Linked DNA regions of Homo sapiens: region 2 is linked to region 1. The links come from fine-mapping of genetic effects on gene expression. Tissue or cell type: whole blood. Region 1 holds a variant in brackets; the other region holds the start of a gene. All regions are shown on one strand. Distances are between the middles of the regions.

The links. PIP is the estimated chance that this variant, and not a neighbour inherited with it, causes the effect.
Region 2: PDE4A starts here. The variant in region 1 is fine-mapped to the expression of PDE4A in whole blood (INTERVAL, PIP above 0.99). The same link has a PIP of 0.9 or more in T cells, blood mononuclear cells, lung and monocytes.

Annotation. Positions count from the first base shown.
Region 1 is chr19:10,454,589-10,462,588 of GRCh38, forward strand. It overlaps PDE4A (phosphodiesterase 4A), which reads left to right. Exons shown (of 15, transcript NM_001111307.2): 7 at 241-334; 8 at 3,291-3,514; 9 at 4,812-4,910; 10 at 5,007-5,171; 11 at 6,416-6,515; 12 at 6,938-7,092; 13 at 7,289-7,411. Among named protein-coding and RNA genes, the nearest start is that of PDE4A, 38 kb to the left of the region's middle. RefSeq lists a silencer at 6,603-6,782 and enhancers at 6,744-7,468, 6,973-7,112. The variant G/C (reference allele first, on the strand shown) is at 3,619.
Region 2 is chr19:10,416,311-10,424,310 of GRCh38, forward strand. PDE4A (phosphodiesterase 4A) reads left to right here and starts at 4,228. Exons shown (of 15, transcript NM_001111307.2): 1 at 4,228-4,774. The coding sequence starts at 4,455. RefSeq lists silencers at 133-402, 4,121-4,590, 4,821-4,870 and enhancers at 503-622, 925-1,476, 1,477-2,027, 3,021-3,900, 5,081-5,270.

The DNA of each region.
Region 1 (8,000 bases):
TTCCTCAGGCAGGGAGGGTTATGCTGACCATGACTCCCCAAACCTGGGGACCTCCATCCAGAGCTGGGAGGACAGGAAAGGCTGACCCCAACCCCCCAGCAGTCTTATAGGGGCTCTGTTGGCTGAGCAGAAAAATAGGAGGGACTCATGGGGTCTTCAGGCGTTCTTGGGAAGGACTGACACCCTCCTCACCACTGTGCTTCCCCCATCATTTCTTCCTTGTTGACTCCTTTACCTTAGTTCAAAAGGATGTTGAACCGTGAGCTCACACACCTGTCAGAAATGAGCAGGTCCGGAAACCAGGTCTCAGAGTACATTTCCACAACATTCCTGGGTGAGTGAGGGGAAGCACGTGGGATTGGAGGGGGGACATTTGGGGTAGAGAGGGGGCTGCCCCTGACCGTGGGTCCTGTTGCTCACATCTTCCCAGGGACTCTGACTCTCAACTCCCCAAAGGTCACAGTCACCCTATCCAGGAACCCTCATGTTCCTGATGCCTCCAAACTCTGTGGGACCCCCAGCTTCTATAGAGCCCAACATCTGAAATCATCTGTGAGCTTAAAACCCTTCTAAACTTTAAAAAGCCTCCAAGCGCCGGGCGCGGTGGCTCACGCCTGTAATCCCAACACTTTGGGAGGCTGAGGCAGGCGGATCACTTGACATCAGCAGTTTGAGACCTGCCTGGCCAACATGGTGAAACCCCATCTCTACTAAAAATACAAAAAATTAGCCAGGCATGGTGGTGGGTGCCTGTAATCCCAGCAACTCAGGAGGCTCAGGCAGGAGAATCGCTTGAACCCAGGGGGTGGAGGTTGCAGTGAGCCGAGATCGCTCCATTGCACTCCAGCCTAGGCAACAAGAGTGAAACTCTTGTCTCAAAAAAAAAAAAAAAAATATTAGCCGGGCATGGTGGTGTGTGCTTGTAATCTCAGCTACTTGGGAGGCTGAGGCAAGAGAATCTCTTGAACTCAGGAGACAGAGGTTGCAGTGAGCCAAGATCACACCACTGCGTTCCAGCCTGGGCAATAGAGTGAGACTCCGTCTCAAAACAAACAAACAAACAAACACCTCTTTGTTTTAGCACTCACTTGAACCCGGGAGGCAGAGGTTGCAGTGAGCTGAGATCACGCCACTGCTGCACTCCAGCCTGGGCAACAGAGTGAGACTCTGTCTCAAAAAATAAACAAAAAAAAAAAGCCTCCAAGCTGAAAAGCCTCCTGAACTGAGTAGAACCCCAAATTCAATAGAATTTCCAAACTTGGATTGACTCCCTTCCAAACTCAGTAGACACACCCAAACTCAAGAGAGATGCCCAAACTCAGTAGAGTTCTCAAACTTAAGGGAAGTTCTGTGCTTCCGAGTCCACAAAAGGCCCCCCAACTTTAGCAACCTCCAAACTGAAAAACCCCCAAATTCAATAGGATCTCCAAACTTGGTATGACCCCCCCCCAATTCAGTAGACTCCCAAAATGTTAGAACCCTAATCTCTAGAAGATTATCAAGCTTAAGAACCTGTAAGAGGCAGGAAGAGGCAGCTCTTGCCTATAATCCCAGGACTTTGGGAGGCTGAGAAAAGAGGATCGCTTGAGCCCAGGAGTTCAAGACCAGCCTGGGCAACATAGTGAGAATCTGTCTCTACAAAAAAAATTAAAAACTAGGCCGGGCGCAGTGGCTCACGCCTGTAATCCCAGCATTTTGGAAGGCCGAGGTGGGCAGATCATGAGGTCAGGAGTTCAAGACCAGCCTGACCAACATGGTGAAACGCCATCTCTACTAAAAATACAAAAATTAGCTGCGCGTGTTGGCACACACCTGTAATCTCAGCTACTCAGGAGGCTGAGGCAGGAGAATTGCTTCAACCTGGGAGATGGAGGTTGCAGTGAGCTGAGATAGCGTCACTGCACTCCAGCCTGGGTGACAGAGTGAGACTCCATCTCAAAAAAAAAATAAATAAATAAATAAATAAATAGAATAAAAAACTAGTCGGGCATGGTGGCGTGTGCCTGTGGTCCCAGCTACCTGGGAGGCTGAGGCAGGAGGATCACTTGAGCCCAGGAGTTCGAGGCTGCAGTGAGACATGATTGCGCCACTGCACTCCAGCTTGTCTCAAAAAAACTAACACCTGTAAGATTCCTAATTCAATGGAACCCCAAATGCACCAGAATACCCCGATTTCACTGGAACCCTTAAGTTCATGGGTACCTCAAAACCCTCAAGCTAGAGATATTCCCCCAAACTCAGGATAATTTAATCCTCGCAGTTTATCACTACACTCCAAAGGCCCCCAAATTCGGGAACCGCCCAGACAAGCTCAAGAAAAGTGTTGGGGCTGGGTGCGGTGGCTCACGCCTGTAATCCCAGCACTTTGGGAGGCCGAGGCAGGCGGATCACTTGAGGTCAGGAGTTCAAGACCAGCCTGGCCAACATGATGAAACTCCATCTCTACTAAAAATGTAAAAATTAGCCGGGCGCGGTGGCGGGTGCCTGTAATCTCAGCTACTCGGGAGGCTGAGGTAGGAAAATCGCTTGAACCCGGGAGGTGGAGGCTACAGTGAGCCAGAGATCGTGCCACTGCACTCCAGCCTGGGCGACAGAGCGAGACTCTGTCTCAAGAAAAAAAGTGTTCGGTGTTTCCAGTACTCCCACCAGTGAGGGTGTGTCTCTGAGTTCTGAGGATCCACCCAATGGGAGCATAACATGTAAATGACCCGTATTAGGCCTTTTCATTGACTAGCTAGCTCCAGGTCACAATGGGTGACCTTGGCTCAGCTCTGGAAGCCCCTGAAAGCTCAGGAAAAGGGTTCCTGGGGCTGTCCCCCAGGCAGGCTGGTGCCAAGGTGGGCGGGGGGGGGGGGGGGCAGGGACATGGAGCCAGAGACCACCCTTCCCTCTCTCTTCCCAGTGATGCCACCCCCCACACCAGCACTCTTGGCCCCCATGCTGGGATCTTCCCCACCCAGAAAGGTTCCCTGGGTGTTCGGGGTAGGCAGCGGCTCTCCCTGGCATCCCCACCTCGCTTTCTGACTTCCCACACCACTCTCCATCCATATCTGATGATCAGACCGGGGCCATCCCAGAGCCCTGGGCCCCCACTCCAGCCCACCACCTCCTGGAAGATTTCCCACATCCCCTCTGGTTTCCTGACTCTGAGTAGCCAGCGGCATCACAGCTGAAAGGGTTCTGCCGTTTCGGGTGAGCCTTCCCCGTACGTGGTAGTGGGCTGAAGAATAAGGGAGCCTCCAGGGGTGGAAGGGTTGTTCACACTTGTTCCTGCTCCCCATCTTCTGCAGACAAACAGAATGAAGTGGAGATCCCATCACCCACGATGAAGGAACGAGAAAAACAGCAAGCGCCGCGACCAAGACCCTCCCAGCCGCCCCCGCCCCCTGTACCACACTTACAGCCCATGTCCCAAATCACAGGGTTGAAAAAGTTGATGCATAGTAACAGCCTGAACAACTCTAACATTCCCCGATTTGGGGTGAAGACCGATCAAGAAGAGCTCCTGGCCCAAGTGGGTGGGGGCTCAGTAGGGGCAGGGCTGGAGGGGGTGGTCTCCTGGGACCCTGAGAAGGACTGGGCATTGGGTTATGTCTTAGGCCAGGTTTCCCAGAAGCA[G/C]AGCTTGAGATGAGGGTTTGAGCCCATCTTGAGGCAAGCATGCTGGCTCTTTGTACCTCTGTATCATTCATTGCTTGGGGGCCGTCCCCAGGGCTGGACGTATCACCTCTTGCATGTAGCTCCTGTTGGGACTAGTCTTCTGGAAATGCAGGCAGCTGTGAGCCTTAGCAGGCAACACTCCCAGCTGCAGAGGGATTGGTGTACACAGCAGTGACGCTAATCCAGACTGTGCCCCCATAGTGTCCCCAACAGTCCAGACCGGTGTTTCACTCCTAGCTCTTCCAGGGGACAGCGGCAGTGGAAGTGATCCATCTTTGGTGGCTCACTCAGCTGAGGCTTATTGTAACCCTCTTTGAGCCACCTCCTCCAGTGAATCTTCCATTCAGTCACCTGGCCTTTAGTTATTTATTTTTATTTATTTATTTATTTTGAGATGGAGACTCGCTCTGTTGCCCAGGTTGGAGTGCAGTAGTGTGATCTCGGCTCAAGGCAACCTCCACCTCCTGGGTTCAAGCAATACTCCTGCCTCACCCTCCTGACTAGCCGGGACTAAAGGCCTGTGCCAGCACACCTGGCTAATTTTTGTATTTTTAGTAGAAATGGGGTTTCACCATGTTGACCAGGCTGGTCTCGAACTCCTGGCCTCAAGTGATCCACCCGCCTTAGCCTCACAAAGTGCTGGGATTGCAGGCGTGAGCCACTGCACCTGGCCAACTGGTGTTTATTAAGCAGCTACTATGTGCTGGCCCTTTTCTGAATTTTGGAGAGACATGGAAAATAAGCCCTTCTTCCTTTCTCCCCTGGGGCTCGTGAACAGCTTAGCTAAGAGGCTGAGCTGTGCTGGGGCCAGTCGTGCTGGGTTCCTATCCTAGCTTTGCCACTTATGAGCTGCATGATCTTGGAGAAGTCACATCGCCTCTCTGAGCCTTGGTGCCTTCACCTGCCAAACGAGATCAAGTGCTTAGAGCAATACTTGGCAGATCATAAGTACTCAAAAGACAGTGGCTGTGATTGCTTTCGCTATTTTGCAGCCCAGTAGGACGAGGGCAGTACATTCTGTGCTGTTGAACCTGTCACCCACTGGGTGAGCAATAATGGTGCTTCCTTCAGACCAAGGCTTCAAACTCCTAGGAAATGTTCTCCAGGGCCCTGAGCCTTACAGGCTTCTGACCTCTGGCCTCCGTCTCCACCAGGAACTGGAGAACCTGAACAAGTGGGGCCTGAACATCTTTTGCGTGTCGGATTACGCTGGAGGCCGCTCACTCACCTGCATCATGTACATGATATTCCAGGTGATGGGGACAGCTGGGAGTGGGCCCGGGTGAGGGGCTCATAGCGGGGCGCTGGAGGCCGGTGGAGGTCACCACCCTGCCCCTGCCTGCTCTCAGGAGCGGGACCTGCTGAAGAAATTCCGCATCCCTGTGGACACGATGGTGACATACATGCTGACGCTGGAGGATCACTACCACGCTGACGTGGCCTACCATAACAGCCTGCACGCAGCTGACGTGCTGCAGTCCACCCACGTACTGCTGGCCACGCCTGCACTAGATGTGAGTGACTGCCCTGTGAGTGACCGTCCCCATCTCTCTTTGTGACTGCCTCTTCAGCCTCCTGTGTGTCTCTCTGACCCTGTGTCTCTGACCTCCATCTCTCTTTGACGCCATTTCTCTCTCTTTTTTTTTTCTTTTTGAGACGGAGTCTTGCTCTGCCACCCAGGCTAGAGTGCAGTGGCACGATCTCAGCTCACTGCAACCTCTGCCTCCCGGGTTCAAGTGATTCTCCTGCCTCAGCCTCCTGAGTAGCTGGGACTACAGGTGCCCACCACCACGCCTGGCTAAGTTTTTATAATATTTTTAGTAGAGATGGCGTTTCGCCAAGTTGGACAGGCTGGTCTCAAACTCCCAACCTCGTGATCAGCCCGCCTTGGCCTCCCAAAGTGCTGGGAGTAGAGGCGTGAGCCACTGTGCCCGGTCAAAAATCTTATTTCTTAAAAAAAAAAAAGTTTTAGTCCAGGTGCGGTGGCTCACACCTGTAATCCCAGCACTTTGGAAGGCCAAGATGGGTGGATCACCTGAGGTCGGGAGTTTGAGACCAGCCTGACCAACGTGGTGAAACACTGTCTTTACTAAAAATACAAAAATTAGCCGGGCGTGGTGGGGCACGCCTGTAATCCCAGCTACTCCAGAGGCTGAGGCAGGAGAATCGCTGGAACCCAGTAGGTGGAGGTTGCAGTGAGCCAGGATTGCGCCACTGCACTCCAGCCTGGGCAACAAAGTGAGACTTCATCTCAAAAAAAATAAAATAAAAATTGCGGGGGGCTAGGCACGGTGGCTCACACTTGTAATCCCAGTACTTTGGGAGGCTGAGGCAGGTGAATCACCTGAGGTCAGAAATGGCCAACATGGCGAAACCCTGTCTCTACCAAAAATATTTTAAAAATTAGCCGGGCGTGGTGGTGGGAGCCTGTAATCCCAGCTACTAGAGAGGCTGAACCAGGAGAGTTGCTTGAACCCAGGATGGGGAAGTTGCAGTGAGCCAAGATCGTGCCACTGCATTCCAACCTGGGCAACAAGAGCAGAACTCTGTCTCAAAAAAAAAAAAAAAAAAGAAAGAAAATTAAATTTGAGACAGGGCCTTGCTATGTTGCCCAGGATGGCCTCGAACTTCTGGCCTTGAAGTCCTAGGCTCAAGTGATCCTCCCATCTCAGCCTCCTAAGTAGGTGAGACAAACAGGTGCTCACCACCATGCATGGCTTCAACTCTGTTATTCTAACATCCGTGTCTCTGCTCCCAGGCAGTGTTCACGGACCTGGAGATTCTCGCCGCCCTCTTCGCGGCTGCCATCCACGATGTGGATCACCCTGGGGTCTCCAACCAGTTCCTCATCAACACCAGTGAGTGGCCCTCGCCAGGGGCGGGGTTTGCTGAGTTGGAGGCGGTGTTGGCCAGGCTGGGGGCGGAACTAACTAGGCTGGAGGAGGGGCTGGCTGGCCTGGGGGCGGGGCTGGCTGGCCTGGAAAGGGGATGGCCGGGCAGGAGGCGGGGCTGGGGGCGGGGCTGGCTGGGCTGGAAAGGGGATGGCCGGGCAGGAGGCGGGGCTGGCTGGGCTGGAAAGGGGATGAACGGGCAGGAGGCGGGGCTGGGGGCGGGGCTGGCTGGGCTGGAAAGGGGATGGCCGGGCTGGGGTAGAGCTGACTGGGCTGGAGGCGAGGCTGGCCGGGCTGGGGAGGGGTTAGCTAGTTGGGGGCGGAGCTGGCCCTCCTGCGGTTGGAGCTGCACACGTGGGCCCTCCCCTGACCTCCGGGCTGGGCTGCAGATTCGGAGCTGGCGCTCATGTACAACGATGAGTCGGTGCTCGAGAATCACCACCTGGCCGTGGGCTTCAAGCTGCTGCAGGAGGACAACTGCGACATCTTCCAGAACCTCAGCAAGCGCCAGCGGCAGAGCCTACGCAAGATGGTCATCGACATGGTGGGCGGGGCTGGGGCGGGACGGAGCGGGAAAGGAAGCCTAGGAGTCGAGGGCTTTGGGGAGGAGTGGGTCTGAGTCCCAGAGGAACCCTCAACCTGGACAGAGCGGGCGGCTTCTACCTGGTGAAAACTTCAGAGGCCCGGGTCAGTCTGGGGGGCGGGTGTCAGCGGCCCCAGTGACGCCCCCTTGCCCGCAGGTGCTGGCCACGGACATGTCCAAGCACATGACCCTCCTGGCTGACCTGAAGACCATGGTGGAGACCAAGAAAGTGACCAGCTCAGGGGTCCTCCTGCTAGATAACTACTCCGACCGCATCCAGGTGCCCCCACGCCCCATCATCTAAGGAGGGAGGACACTCCCCCAGCCACACCTTTAGGTCTGGGTAGCTAACTGCCCCTTCCTCAGCCTCTTTCTCCCAAGTGGCCCATCTTCCTGTGTCCTTCTTTCTTTTTTTTTGTTTGTTTGTTTTTGAGACGGAGTCTTGCTCTTGTTGCCCAGGCTGGAATGCAATGGCGCCATCTTGGCTCACCACAACCTCCGCCTCCCGCCTCCCGCCTCCCGCCTCCCGGGTTCAAGCGATTCTCCTGTCTCAGCCTGCCGAGTAGCTGGGATCACAGGCATGCGCCACCATGCCCAGCTAATTTTGTACTTTTAGTAGAGAGGGTTTCTCCATGTCTGTCAGGCTGGTCTCGAACTCCCGACCTCAGGTGATCCCCCCCCGCCCCCCGCCTTGGCCTCCCAAAGTGCTGGGATTACAGGCGTGAGCCACCGCGCTCAGCCCTCTTTTTTTAAATTTATTTTTATTTACTTTGTATGTTTAAAGGAGAGTTGGGGTCTCACTATGTCACCCAGTCTGGTCTCAAACTCCTGAGCTGAAGTTATCCTCCTGTCTTGGCCTGCCAAAGTGC
Region 2 (8,000 bases), 38 kb before region 1:
GGCTGCAGAGCGCACCCGTCTTCGGGAACGGCGTCTGTGTCCCTGTCTGTCTGTTTCTATTTCCACACGTCCCTGTCTGTCTCCACGCGCCTCTGCCTGTGCGTCCCCCATCTGTGCCCAAGCCGCCGTCTCTCTGCGCCCGGCCCCCGCACATCGGAGCTATTTCGGGTTTAAGGCTTAAAAGCCCAACAGCTCGGAGGAGACGCTTCCTCCGGCCCCCGGCTCGGACCACGCGCCGCACGCGGCCAGCTCTGGGAGCTCCCAGTTTTTTCTGCGGGATCCCCGAGCCGGGGAAGCCCCCGCGGGAGGAAGGGTGGGGGCTGGGGCGACCCGGGCCCGGAGGCTCTCGGCCCCCCAGTGGCCAACCCCGGCATTGACGCCGTCAGGAGCCCAGCCGTGCGTCAGCTGTCGCCCTGGCAACGGGGGCGACGTCACCACATTGGTGGTGCGTCAGTCCGCTGACGTCACGCCCCAGGAGAGGCAATAGGCAAGTGGCGGGGGCGGGTTCTAGGCCCGACCGGCAGGGGGAGCCCTGGGGCACTGATGGCAGATGCGTTTGGCTTGGTCTTGTAGGAGGCCCTGGCCCTGCCGACATGGCCACCGCAGTCCCAACGGCGCGCTAGGTTGGCGAGATGAAGAGGAGTCGCAGTGCCCTGTCCGTGGCAGGGACCGGGGACGAGGTGCGAGAGGAGGGGCTTGGGCTAGGGGCGGGGCTTCGCCCCTTGGGGGAGACTAGCGCCCTCTAGTGACCACGGCTATTTCCTGAACGTGGCTTCACTACCTCCAAGCTGTGAGGAGTTTGGTCCCCTCGTGCCTCAGTTTACCCCCTTGATTCCATTTTTTCTCCTGCTGCCCTAAGAGGCTCTCAGCCGGCCCAGGGACAGCAGGCAAAGGCTTCTCAAATGAGGAGAGGATTTTGGCGAGGAGGTGGGAGGGGGCGCTAGGGGTGGTGAGGTCTTGAGAGTCTCAGATGTGAGGGATGGGAGGGGGGCATTGACATTAAGACCAAGAGGGGCCCTCTTAGACGTGGAGGTTGGGAAGAGACCCTAAAAAGGTGATGTGTTAGAGAGGTCTCACACTTGAGACAGAATGTCTAGATGTGACAGACCCCAAGGCTGGGGCATCGAGAGGGGACCCCACAAAAATTATGGCTGAGAAGGGGCACTCTCAGACCTAAGGGATGGCAGGGCACCCTCTGTGTGAGGGGTCAGCGAGTGGCTCACACGTGAAGGGGAGCCTATACCGCCATTAACTACTCCCTTAGACAGCTAGGTAGGGGTGTTCTTGGGGAGAGGGGCTCAGAGCTTCCCAGCCAGGCCACGCCCCTATTCCACTTTGTCCCTCCCCAGAGGTCGAGGGAGACCCCCGAATCCGACCGTGCCAACATGCTGGGGGCCGACCTGCGTCGCCCTCGCCGCCGCCTCTCGTCCGGTCCTGGCCTGGGCTGGGCCCAGCCTGAGCCCTCGGACCCTGGGGTCCCTCTGCCGCCACGGCCCACCACCCTGCCGCTGCTGATCCCACCGCGGATTTCCATCACCAGGGCCGAGAACGACAGGTAGGTAGGAGAGGGAGCAGAGTGGGAGGTGGGTTGGGGAGGCACAGTGCCAACTGGGCTAGGTCCAGCCACCAGCCCTTCCCGATCTCCATGCTCCCTGCCGTTTGCAAAACTAGCTGCAACTTGTCCTGTGGCGGGCTGTGACACCCCTACCCCAAGGCACCCTTCGCAGGCTCTAGGAACCCCTTATTTCATTTTCCAGCTGCCTGAGTCAGCAAGGGGCAGGACTGAGGAAAGGGGTGTCATGTCTCCAGCCCCCAAGATGCTCCCATATTCACAGAGCTGGGGCAGGTTGATCAGGCGGCTGTGCACCGGCTTTCATGTCCCCGCCTGGGAGGATCAGGTTTCTTCTCCGCCTTGAAGGGGATGGTGGAGTCTTGGAAGGGGTCTGGACTAGTATTTTTCTTTCTCCTGGGGAGATGTGAGAAATATCTGCGAGCTCTGGGTTCACACAGCACCTCCTGCTGATTCTCATCTGGGGACCTTCCAGGTACCCAACCAGTTTCCCAGAGTACTCAACCCCCCTCTTGGCTCAAGAATGAGCTGGAAAGTCAGACAGCTGAGCTGGTCCTGGCTTCTGGCCGGCCCCTGCCCCCATGCCCTCCTCTGGTCACCGCTTTCGGCAGTTCCAATCCACCCCCACCCCCATCTACTCAATTGGAGGGTTCCAGGGTCTCTGTTTCCGTCATGGTCCAATGGTTCATTTCCAGATAGGGAGAGCAAGTGACTGTCTCTCGCCCCTGGAGCTGCTTAATTATACCTCTCCACGCCCATCCCACTAGCCTCAGGTCCAGATCAGTTTATCCCCCAGCTCAGGCCACCGCTCCTCGTTTCCTCCTTCTTCTGCAACCCCAGCTGTGTCCTGACACCCCCACCCACCTCACATTACGCACTCCCACCCGCTTCCAGATCTCTAACCAACGTTACAGCATACCCCGCCAAGAATTTGGCCCAGCCCAGGACTCTCAAATATGATCTGGGGAGAACTCACAGCCCCTGCAAATTCCCTAGAAGCCGTTTTGAGTGTGTAATGGGGGGGGTGTTCCTGAGAGAAGTGGGGAACACAGTTTTGGCCCTTGGAATACCCGGCGGCTGCTGATGGGGGGGCCGGTTTTTGCTCGGCGTTCGCCCACGCCGGGAGCCCCCTCTGGCGGGGAGAAAAGTGGCTGTGGGGGTTGAAGACCGGCAGTCTTTTTTTTTTTTTTTTTTTTTTTTCAAATAAGGAGAAGGGCGCGGGGGGAGGGCGGTGGCAAACGGCATCGCGTGCCCTGGGGAGCCCGTGACAGGGGGCGCACGGGGGCAGGGGTCTGGTCCCCGGGTCCCGCAGCAGAGCAGTTTCGCGTTCGAGCTCTTATCGGCGTGGGGGGGGGGGGCGGTGGGACACGCGGGCGCGTGCACTCCCCCCGCCCAGCAGCCATCCTTGGGGGGGTTGAGGGGGATGGGGGCGCACTCGGATCCCGCTCGCTCTCTGCTTGCTCGCTCGGCGCGGCGCTGGGGGAGGCGGGAGCGTGAGTCACGGCGACTCCCGATTTAGGTGCCGGAAGGGGGGCTCTGCTGGCGGGGGCCGCAGGGAGGAGGCTCGCCTGTTTACTCGCCTGAAAAGGGCACGGGGGTGCGCTCCGCGGCTACCTGGGACCTTCCTCAGTTTACCTCTGGCAGAAGCGCTTTAGAAGAGGCAGCGATGTATAGAGCGGTGGGCCGGCAGCTGCGGTATCCGCCACAGGGTGTCTTCCTGGAGCCACAAGGGAACCAATGGGACACACCCCAGAAACACCCCAGAGGCCCCAGGCCGACCACACACATACACTCACGCACACGCACACACTAACATACATAGACGTCCTCCGACACTACAGTCAGACGACAGAGGCCGAATCGCGTGCACAACTCCGCAAGCACACACCGACCACAAACGCATCCAAGCGCTTGAGAACACATTCACAGTCCCCAGGCCACCTGAAAAAAGACCACGTAGGGATGCACATCCTCCAAATAGGTAGCACATGTGCGCACACATCCTTCACCCACAGACACACACAGTTATACACACAGCCAAATCCAGAGAAACGGGCAGACAACAGCAGCCAACCACGTGCGCACACACACTTCCAGCCGACACTGAAAACACAGACAACCCTCGGAAGAGGCCACGTGCGCGCACATCCCGCCCCGGGCCCGCACCATCACTATCCTCCGACGCACAGACAGGAGATCCCACACACTCTGCCGCCGCCCGCTGCAGGTACCGCGCCGGTGGCACTAGGACCACTCCTCAAAAACTGCCCCCCGCCAGGGGTAGCGGCGAGGACACGCCAACACCGGACTCCGCCCTCGCCATGATGGACCGACTGACTGACACTCTGGCAACCAGTCCGGTGTCTGCTTCCAGATCGGATTAACCGTTTAACTCCTTCGTGCCTGTGCGCGCCGCGGCCAAGCAGGGTGCTTTGAAGACAGACGAGTTCCAGCGCCCCCTCCCAGCCCGGAGCGGGGATCTGCGTGGGCGGGAAGGGCCCCCCTCCTTAGGTAGCTGCCCCCCGCTGGCCCGGACGGAGGAGGAGGGGGGCGGCGCTGACAGCCGCGGCGGGCGGGGGGCGGGGAGGGGCGGGACGGGGCGGAGGAGCCGGGGCTGGCGCCGAGCGGGCCGCGGAACGCGGAGCGCGGAGCGCGGAGAGCGCCGCCGGGCACTGAGCAGAGCTCCAGGCGCCGAAAGGAAGCTGCAGAGCCCGGCCCGGGGGCGATTGGCCCGCAGCGCCCCCGGGTCTGTCCCCGGGGCGCCATGGCCCTACCGCGGCCGGGCGCACCCGCGGGGCCCTGGGCTCGCTGGCTTGCGCGCAGCTGAGCGGGGTGTAGGTTGGAAGGGCCAGGGCCCCCTGGGGCGCAAGTGGGGGCCGGCGCCATGGAACCCCCGACCGTCCCCTCGGAAAGGAGCCTGTCTCTGTCACTGCCCGGGCCCCGGGAGGGCCAGGCCACCCTGAAGCCTCCCCCGCAGCACCTGTGGCGGCAGCCTCGGACCCCCATCCGTATCCAGCAGCGCGGCTACTCCGACAGCGCGGAGCGCGCCGAGCGGGAGCGGCAGCCGCACCGGCCCATAGAGCGCGCCGATGCCATGGACACCAGCGACCGGCCCGGCCTGCGCACGACCCGCATGTCCTGGCCCTCGTCCTTCCATGGCACTGGCACCGGCAGCGGCGGCGCGGGCGGAGGCAGCAGCAGGCGGTAAGACTCCCCGCGGCGGATGCGCGCGGAACGGATGGGCGCGCAGGGAGGAGGCAACTCGAGCTGCCGGCCGCAGGGGGCGCTAGGATGCGGGTGGGGTCGGTTTGGCTGGCGGGGGCGGAGGGAATTCGGCTGCGGGGGCGTCTGGGACCTGGCCCCTGGTTGTGCGCTCTACGGGAGGCTTCCTGCTGAAGCCCATCCTGGGGTCCATTTAGGGGGCGCCACGCTGCGCGTGGTGTTAACGAGGTCTGGGTTGGGGAAGGGGGCTGCACACTTAGGGGTCTGTATTCTTGGTGACAGTGCAGAACAGCTGCTAAGCTGGGAACCACTTGGAGGGACCTTCCTGGGGGCACTATACTGAGGGCTAGATTCGCAGTGTTTGGGGTACTCTTGGAGCACTCCATAAGGGGGTGCCTGCTAGGACCAGGATCTTTACTTCAGGGTGGGGTGCTCTCAGGGTCCTTCTAGGGGATGGAGGACTCTATTGCGGGGATGTTAGTGGACTCCTCCTGCAGCAGCTGGGGTCAGAAATCCAGAGGGTGCCTCTTGGGGGAGCACTGTTTTGGGAGCCTTGCGTTAGATTGGAGTTCCCCTCTCAGGGCAAGAGTGTTAGCGTTAAGTAGCTGTTCAGAGGCAGGAAACAGTGGAGGGGGGGCGCAGTCCCAGCACAGAGGGAAGGAGTCCCTGACTGCAGAGGTGACAGCATAGTGAGGGTGCATGTGTGTTGAGCTTGGTCTCCTCTGAGGGTATTCTCCGATTGACCTCCGTTTGCTCCAGCTGTCCGGGTATGACCAGCTGTGGCTACCTCAGTTGTGTGCTCTGTGTGAGCTTCTGGGGTCTTGTGATGGTGACACGATGACTCTGTGTCCTCCAGGGACAGTGTAATTGTGACAGTGTGACTGTGTATTTCCAGGGTAGTGTGACTGTGTGTTTCTGGGACAGGGTTTGCGACAGTGACTGTGTGTGCTCCAAGAATGCTGTGACTGTCACAGGGTGACTGTGGCCTCATGGGATGCAGTGATTGGGATAGAGTGACTGTTTCTGCTCCTAGGACAGTGATTGTGCAATGGTGTTGGTGGTCTAGGGACAATGTGATTGTGACAGTGTCATTTCTGGCATGCAGTGATTGTGGCACTGGGGTGTTTACACTTGGGGAACAATGTGATTGAGTTCGTGGAACAGTCTGTGCTCCTTGGACACTGTGATTGAAACACAGTGGCTGTGTGTTAGTCTTCACCAGGTGCTCACGTCTGAGCGTCGGTGCTCTGACATGTGGTCTGTGTTCCCTCTGCCTGGTGTATCCTAAGAACTGGTGTCCTCTAACCACCTGGTGTTCTTAGTTATTGTTCCTCCTCTGATGGTGCTCCAGGGTCTGATTGCTTGTGCTCCAGCGATGTGTGCAACTGACAGCTTTGCCCGTGTGCTCTACCTGGATGCCCCACTGCTGGGGATATCACCAAGACGGTCAGATTTGGGCTCCTTATCCCTGGAGCTCCTGAGTGAGGCCTCTCTAAGATGTAGCCCTACTCTTCCTAAGTCTCTTTGGGGGTCTTCAGCAGTCATTGCAGCCCTCCAGGCCACCCCCACCTCTGTTCTGATCACCCCCCAGCCCCAGTCCCCCTGCACCCTTCTACCCACCAGGAAGCAAGTGTCACGGGCCCAGCATACATGGGCTGACATTTCCCAAAGGGAACTGGAGAGAGGCTGAAGGAAGAGAAAGTTGGAATCAACAGAAAATGCTAAAACTGGGGCAGGGGGCCAAACTGGCACAGGTCACTGTCCTAAGACACCAAGGGGTGGGTGAAGTGAAGTAGGTTCCAGGCCCCATTTCTTTGCAAGGCTCCAGGGACTCCTCCTAGCCTGGTCTCTGGGGCACTGAGTCTTAGGGGACAGTGGCTGAGTGGTAATAATCATCATTATTTTGGTGGGTATCCATCTCGCAATGGCTCACCCTCCGGCTCCATGCCAGGGACTTTTCCATATGCATCCTCATCCCCAGTGCCCTGGGTATTCCAGCAGGGTATTCCTGCTGGCATATGGAGAAACTGGAGCCCAGAGACAAAACCCTTTCTCTTTTTTTTTTTTTTTTTTTTTTGACAGAGTCTCCTCTGTCACCCAGGCTGGAGTGCAGTGGCGTGATCTCAGCTCACTGCAACCTCTGCCTTCCGGATTCAAGTGATTCTCCTGCCTCAGCCTCCGGAGTAGCTGGGATTACAGGCGCCCACCACCACACCTGACTAATTTTTGAATTTTTAGTAGAGATGGGGTTTCACCATGTTGGCCAGGCTGGTCTCGAACTCCTGACCTCAGGTGATCTGCCCACCCCTTAGCCTCCCAAAGTGCTGGGATTACAGGCATGAGCCACTGCACCCAGCTAAACCTTTTCTCTTTCTCACCCAAACTCACACAACCAGGAGATGGGGGAGCTGGAATTGCAACGCAGGTCCGCCCAATTCCTGTGCATCTTTGTATAAGTGTCTTGCCCTCTCTGAGCCTTAATTTTCCAGTCTGTAGAGTGGGGCTTTTGTTGGCACTGCCATGTGGGGGTCACTTTGAGGGTTCTGTGAGCTTGGAGATGTGTGTAAAGGACTTAACATAATCAGTAGATCTCCATTCAGGGACCTGGACTAAGGAGGGGGGACCTGGGTGGATCCCATTTCTCCAGGGTGAGTAGAAAAAAACAGGAACCTTAACCACATCCCCACGTAGACTCGGGTTTCTGTTTCACTGTGGGCCTGTGCACCCTTCAGTGTCTGTGCTGAGGTCCAAAGCTGGGACTGATGGGTGGGCTGTAGCTGGCATCAGTGCCAGGGTCCTCCCCCATTCCCAGGGAAAAGGAGGAAGGTGTCTGATGGCAACCTCAATGCTTAGAACAGGCATTTCTTCAAAAAGGGGGTTTTTACCAGGGCACATACAGGATTCAGTGCTCCCCACACTGGAGTTCATCCAGCTACCGCAAAAGGAGTCCAGCGAGCTCCCCCGATTTGGGTCAAAGGAATCCCCAGAGAGAGGGCACTGCCCACCCCCAACCGGAGATGTCATCCAAACCTCCCCTCCAGACCTGAAGATGTATGAGACGGCTGAGTCACGGCACAGCCACGATCTGTCAAGAGGCAGATGGAGAGGGAGGAAGAGGAGGACTTTGGTGGTGGGGGTGGGGAGCTGTCTGAACTGGGGACGGGGCCAACATACGGACCCTGCGTCCCCCCTCCCTGGGCCCTAAAAC